Linked DNA regions of Homo sapiens. The protein of the gene in region 1 purifies or fractionates together with the protein of each later gene. This does not show direct contact. Each region holds a gene or a part of one and is shown in the gene's direction. Other genes may lie near its edges.

The links. The genes of interacting proteins can lie anywhere in the genome.
Region 2: the proteins of APOBEC3B (region 1) and TNRC6B purify together in Homo sapiens (affinity purification with mass spectrometry, with the first as the bait; one study listed by BioGRID). This does not show direct contact.

The regions. Positions count from the first base shown.
Region 1 is NC_000022.11:38,980,750-38,984,501, forward strand, and holds the start of APOBEC3B (DNA dC->dU-editing enzyme APOBEC-3B), read left to right. Parts: upstream 1-1,597; 5' UTR 1,598-1,704; coding exon 1,705-1,721; intron 1,722-3,325; coding exon 3,326-3,482; intron 3,483-3,752.
Region 2 is NC_000022.11:40,257,840-40,261,491, forward strand, and holds part of TNRC6B (trinucleotide repeat-containing gene 6B protein), read left to right. Parts: intron 1-1,202; exon of another isoform or gene 1,203-2,529; intron 2,530-3,652.

The DNA.
Region 1 (3,752 bases):
GTGCTGGGATTACTGGTATGAGCTACCACACCTTGCCCGAAAACGTTTTCAAAATAATAAAATGGGCTGGGCAAGTGGCTCACGCCTGCAATTAGAGGCCTGGAGACATTAAGTAAACCACCCAAGGTCACACAGTAAGGAAGGGGCAGATCTCAGAGTCGCCTGGCTGCAAAGCTGGTGTCCCTTCCCCACTGTGCCTTAACTGCCGCCTTACAGCTGGGTTGGAGGATGCCTCCCTGGTCTAGGGTCATTATTACATTTTCTTTTACAAAGTATGTTTCTGATAAACGGAACTGTTTATTTTCCACCGATGGTCTTATCCTTTGTCCATCTCTTTCTGACGGCAACAGAAAACTTCACCTTCCAGAGGAGCGCCTCTGCCTGGCTGTCCCACCGTCTGGGAAGTAAGGAGCGCCTCTGCCCAGCCCCCGCACCGTCTGGGAAGTGAGGAGCGCCTCTGGACGGCCCCCGCACCGTCTGGGAAGTGAGGAGCGCTTCTGGACGGCTCCCAGCAACCCCCCAGGTGTGAAGTGACAGCCCTGTGTGTGATCTTTCTGCCCTCCCCAAGTTTGCATTTTCGACAATAAAATTTACTTTTAAATTAAAAGATTTATACTGGGGAAGATTTAAAAAAAAAAAAAGAAAGAAAAGAAAACTCACCTTCCAAAAACAACCACTGGGAGTCCGCTTTGTGCAGAGGTTGGACAAGCTTCTGTGCAGGTAGGGGCGCTGCTGCTCCCCCTACCACCCACGCATCCTCCTCCCTGTCTGCATTCCCGTCGTCGTAGCCAGAGGAGTTCAGAGCCTCTACAGAGAGCACAACTTCTCCAGCTGGAACAAACTCCCCTTAAAGGAATCTATTTAGGAAGATTATTTCAATGTACATTCATTCCTCCAAAATATGCTTAGATGGACTTAAATAATCAGAAAGCTGTGTGTGTATGTGTTTCCCGTTTTCTTGGCCCACAAAGAACCCCTTGAGAGGTCCCTGGGCAGTGAGCCTGTTTATAGACACCCTTCTCCCTTCCTTGGTGTCGCAGACATCGCAGTCCCTCTGAGGGGCTGACCTGCCCCCCACCTTCTGGAAGCTGGGAGGTTGGAAGAGGGGACGCATGCCATGGACCCAGCACACAGCTGGGAACTCGAGGCACACCTAAGCCTTCCCTTGTGCTGTGCGGAGTCCACACTTCCTTCCCCACTGGAGTCTCAAAACCTCCCCTCACTCAACAGGGTGGTGCTGCTCAAAGCTCTGGGCACACATTAGGGCTGGGGAGGGGGTGGTGGAGAGGGGGCTCCAGCCTGCCCAACCACCAGGCAACGGGGCACCTGCCCCTCTCTCAGCTGGGTCTGGACCCGCCTCCCAGGCTCAGGCTGCAATGCCTTTCTCTTTCTCTTTGCAATTCCGTTGGGTCCTGCCCAGGACAGATAAAGACAGAGCAGCCTGTCTTTATTGGAGGTTCCTCTGCCAGCGGGAAGGGTCCGGGGAAAACCAGAGCCAGAGCCAGAGCCAGAGAAACATGAAGCACCCCGGGGCCTCCCACACCAATGCCTGAGCAGGAATGGGGAGGGGCCATGACTCATAAGGCCCTGGGAGGTCACTTTAAGGAGGGCTGTCCAACTGCAAGGACGCTGTAAGCAGGAAGTGAAACCACAGAGCTTCAAAAAAAGAGCGGGACAGGGACAAGCGTATCTAAGAGGCTGAACATGAATCCACAGATCAGGTACCGCTGCCCACTCTGCCTGCTGGGCCCCTCCTGCCCCTTCCTGCCTGGTGGTCCTGCTGGGCCTCAACCCTGGCCTCCCCCCGCCCCTGCCCCAGCCCTGGGCTCCCTCCCCTCTGGCTCCCCTGCCACACGAATCCCAGTCAGGCTCTTTGTCCTGCTGTGTGGTCACCCCACTGCTGCTTCTGAATGGGCTGCCTCCCCTACCTGCACCAGCCCAGGCCCCGTGCTGAGACTCTCCCTTAAAGTCATGCCCGGACTGGTGCTCCCCGCCCTGGGAGGGTGCTCCCTCTGTGTGCTTCCTGCCACTCCTGAGCTCAGAAACTGGGAGAATTGAACCAAAGGGTAATTGGAGCAATCAGGCATTTTTGTTCTCAGTGTTTTGATGAAATTTCTGTAAGAATTACTTTGCTTAAATACAAAGTCTTAGGAGAGGGTGCGGGGGTAGGAATGGTCTCTGAAGCACATGATAAATCGTGTCATCCAAGGATGACTCCATGGTGAGCAGATGTCCCCAGACAGGTTCCACTCCAAGGTCACTCTTCATCTTTTAGAACATGACCAGTGGTTGAGCGTGGTGGCTCACACTTGTAATCCCAACACTTTGGGAGGCCAAGGCGGGCGGATCATGAGGTCGGGAGTTTGAGACCAACCTGGCCCATATGGTGAAACCCCGTCTCTACTAAAAAACATACAAAAATTAGCCAGGCATGGTGGCGCATCTCTAGTCCCAGATACTCAGGAGGTTTAGGCAGGAGAATTGCTTGAACCTGGGAGGTGGAGGTTGCAGTGAGCTGAGATCATGCCACTGCACTCCAGCCTGGGCGACAGAGTGAGACTTCATCAAAAAAAAAAAGAAAGAACATGATCAGTAACATGGAATGTGAGAATGTGGGAAAAAAGTGCAATGATGAGGAGAAATGCTCTGATTTTAAAATTTAGTGAAAAGAGAGCCCAGTCCCCAACAGCTTTCTCCTACAGGATCCGTGATGCAGAGGCTGGACAGGGCTGGCCTGGAAAGGGGCCCCTGCTCCATCCGTCCCCAGCTCTGTGGCCTCGGCAGGTTACCCCGCCTCTCTGTGCCTCTGGCATCTCCTCTGTAAGATGGGAATGGCCCCTGCAGGCCTAGGGTAGCCTCACGTGAGCTCACACCCGCTCAGCACTTAGAAGAGTGGCCTGGGCCTCAGAATTCAGTTCTACCATGATTTTAAAATAATGTTAACACGCAGAGTGAAACATCAGGAAGGAATTGAGCTGAAAGGTTAAAAGCTATTTTTTAGGGGTGAAGGGTTTTATTCTCTTTTGCATTCTCCTAATGGGTTGGGGAGTGGGTTGGCAGAAATACTAGGAGGGTGGGGAATGTACCCCTGGAAAGGCCAGAGTTGGACCCGAGCTGGGAGAGATCACCCCAGCCCGCCTGCCAGCATCCCCTCCTCTTCCTCTCCCCTCAGTCTTCCTGCCTGGGAAGGCAGCAGAAATTCTCAGGGCTGTGGAGGGGTCGGGGAGGCCCAGGGCCATCCTGGGAGCTGTGTTCAGTGGACATGAGCCCCGAGGACTCCCGGGAGGGCTCCCTGCATGGGCCGGTTTCTCTCTTGTGCCTTCAGAAATCCGATGGAGCGGATGTATCGAGACACATTCTACGACAACTTTGAAAACGAACCCATCCTCTATGGTCGGAGCTACACTTGGCTGTGCTATGAAGTGAAAATAAAGAGGGGCCGCTCAAATCTCCTTTGGGACACAGGGGTCTTTCGAGGCCAGGTACCACCCAAACTTCAATCGAATCACAGGCAGTGTTGCAGGAATTAGAGGACTGGAGAGACTGATATGGGTGAGACAGGAGGATTTATTTAGGTGCACTGGTTCAGCAGACTCACATCCAAAAAGGCTGAGCCCTTAACAAAGACAGACTGAGGTATTTATAAGCAAACTTACAGAAGCAGAACAAAGGCGATTAATCAAACAGTGACAGGTCACATAATCTATAGCATAACAGATGACTTAGCATAACTTGGGGCCTTCTATAGCTGG
Region 2 (3,652 bases), 1.3 Mb from region 1:
TGATGAAACTCCGTCTCTGTTAAACATACAAAAATTAGTGAGGCGTGGTGGTGCACGCCAGCTACTCGGGAGGCTGAGGCAGGAGAATCACTTGAACCTGGAAGGTGGAGGTTGCAGGAAGCTGAGATCCTGCTACTCCACTCTAGCCTGGGCAACAGAGCAAGACTCAGTCTCAAAAAACAAACAAAAAAAGAAGTAAATGAATGGAAATCAGAAAATAGGATACACAGCCTTTTTTTTTTTTTTTTTTTTTTTTTTTTTTACCCCACAATGTTTTTATTTCCCTATAGTACTGAGATCATGTTTAAGCCACAAACCTTTCCTCTGGAAGATAAGAAACTATGCACTTACTTTGAACAGCTCATCTTTAGAAAAACTTGCACAACTTACAAATCCTTAAGATTCAGAAAAGAGACAGCCTGAAAAGTAACATATTCAGACTTTTAATGATAGCTTCTCTTGCCCTTTATCGTCTAACATTCTGGACCATGATGATGGGTGATGCACACTGATTCTGATGTCTTAAGTTTGGACTTTGGGAGTCAATTTGGATCAGACATCCTGCCTGAAAAGCTGTGTTGCTCTCCAATTAGTGCCGGCAATTCTGGTTGGCCTTTAAAAGCTTAACATTCTTGGATTCACAGAAAGGTGTGATTTAAAAAATAGAGTAAGAATTCATTCAGGTGCTGAAACACAGTTTGCTATGACTAAGGTGGTGTCTTGGGCGTTTTCTGACTGTTTCCTGGAGGTTTTGTTTTTTTCTTTTTATACTTTGACCTATTTGTACATGATGTCCTGGAGTTTGAATGACTAATCTCCTGGGCCAGAGCACACTGTATTGGGAGGAAAGTGGTTGAGGTGTGTTCCCATTTTATAATGACTTTATCATTTACAATCCATTCTGTCTCTGATGTGGTGGGAAAGTGCCCTGAGGAACTTTTGCAAGGAATCTTACATGATACGTGATACCTACCAAATTTCTTCAGTTGAAACAGTGCTGTGAATGTTTTAAAGTGAGTCAAACTGGTGTTCAGCCCTCAGTCCTGCAGGTCACTCTGTCATGTCTTGTTGTTTTTCTGGATTGAGTTAAAAGTATGTAGTAGACCTGGGTAACTTATAATGAAGATTCTTGACCTTTATAGCAGGGCAGCCTTACAGAAACATAGCTCTTTCTGTCCTAAAAACCAGTTGGGATGAATTTCTCCAGTCTCTGCCAACTTCTTGTTTATTCTCATAATAAGATAAAAGGGGATTGCGAATGCCCTGTGCTATAGAATCCTCCAGTAACAGATAGAAAATTAATATTAAATAATCTTCATTCATTCATTTACCAGTTATGTATCCATCTGTTGTTATAGGTCATGAATATTAGATAATGACTAATTTTCTTTTCTTTTTTTTTTGAGACAGAGTCTTGCTCTGTGGCCCAGGCTGGAGGGCAGTGGCACGATCTCGGCTCACTGCAACCCCCGCTTCCCAGGTTCAAGCAATTCTCGTCCTCAGCCTCCTGAGTAGCTGGGAATACAGGCGCATGCCACCACGCCCAGCTAATTTTTGTATTTTTAGTAGAGACTAGGTTTCACAATGTCGGCCAGGATGGTCTCGATCTCCTGACCCTGTGATCTACCCACCTCGGCCTCCCAAAGTGCTGGGATTACAGGCGTGAGCCATCGCGCCTGGCCGACTAATTTTATTTTCTTAAGTCACACATTTATTCTGCTCATCAGATTTTGGATCCTCTGACCTCCACTCCCCCTCCCCTTACTGGGAGGCCTGGTGCTGCCTTGTGATTAGCTGAGGTTAGACATGGGGTTACCTGGAAATTGCTGCAGGCACCTGCTCTTTTCTCCTGTCACCCACAGTATGTTAATGTCCAGTAGTGGCATAGATTGGGCCGCCTGATTTCTGATGATGTATCTCTCTCATAAAGGAGCCAGTTCAGCAAGCAACATGCTGGCCCCGCATCATTTTAGCAGTCAAAGCAGTACTACCCCCAGAGTTGGCCCTGACGTTACCCTGGGAGGCAGGGATTTGGGCCTCAGAATCATCCGAACTGTCAGGCTTGATGATTATTTCTGTACGACTTCCAGCCTCTATTTGCCAGGTAGATTTTTATGGAGAGGGTAGTGATCTTCTGGCAGCATGCAGCGAGGGAGGTACAGATCTAAGAGAGCCTTCTCTGTATGTTCGACGGGAAGAGCCAGAGGGTCCGGCAGAGTGCGGTTTCACGGTTGCCCCGACATTCCCACGCTGTGTGCGGGCCATTTTTAAAATTAAGTTTAAAAAAATCAAATGATTTAAAGTAAACAGAAAAAGTATTTACATTTTGAAATTTCTATTTTAAAGAATTGGGAAGAAACACTTTTTTTTTTTTTTAAAGAAAAGCAAAAAGATTTGTAACATTTCTAGTATTTACACAGAGAGCGGTGCAAGTCTTTGAGTCCAGGTAGCTGTAGAAACCAGAACCAAGCTGAGTTTGTGATTTTCTAGGCCTGGAGTTTCTTGTAAGAGTCCACTCTGTGCCATGCCCTAAGGAAGAAAGAAAAGATGAAAGATGGGTCCTTGCCCTCAGGAAGTCATGGCCTGGTGAGGGAGAAGGACTTGTAAATGGAGAATTTCTGTGATAGAGAGAGATGGGACTTGTAGATGGAGAATTTCGGTGGTAGAGATAGATGGATTTTTGAATGGAGAATTTTCATGGTAGAGAGAGATGGATGATGTGTTCCAGGAGCACTTAGGAAGAATGTTTAGCCCATCTAGGCCAGGGGCTTCAATAAAGTTTACTCAGGGGTAGATCTTTTAAGAATGTGGATGAAGGGAAGGGACCCTTGGACTGAGGCTTGAAACCTTTCCCAAGGACTTTGCCATGGACATTTAACTCTTCTAGGCAGCACTTCAGGGAATTAATTCCACTGTTGATTTAGGGGAGTGAATGTTGATTGCTTCCCTCTCCGCCTTAATTAATGGAATGTATTCCATGACCTTGCTGTGTTTAAATTCTTGTCACTGTCAGCCGCCACCTTCATCCTACCTTCAGCAAACTGGAGAGATTGTGGAGAATTTGGAAAAACTGTTTCCCTTGAGAGTAGAGTAAAAGGAGAAGTTACTTTGTTAGAATTGGTACCATGTAAGCTTTCTTACAAATAATCTTAGCCAGGGTCTGGGTGTGGTGGCTCACACCTGTAATCCCAGCACTTTGGGAGGCCGAGGTGGGTAAATAGCTTGAGTTCAGGAGTTCGAGACCAGTCTAGGTAGGCAACATGGCAAAACCCTGTCTCTAGAGGAGGAAAAAAAAATTAGTTGGGCATAGTGGTGTATGCATTGTAGTCCCAGCTACTCAAGAGGCTGAGGTGGGAGGATCACTTGAGCCCTGGAGGTAGAAGTTGCAGCAAGCCAAGATCACTGCACTCCAGCCCGAGTTATACAGCAAGACCTCATCTCAAAAAAATAAAAAATAGGCTGGGTGCAGTGGCTCATGCCTGTAATCTCAACACTTTGGGAGGCCAAGGCAGGCGGATCATGAGGTCAGGAGTTCAAGACCAGCCTGGTCAACATAGTGAAAACCTGTCTGTACTAAAAATACAAAAAATTAGCTGGTTTTGGTGGTGGGCGCCTGTAATCCGAGCTACTTGGGAGGCTGAGGCAGGAGAAT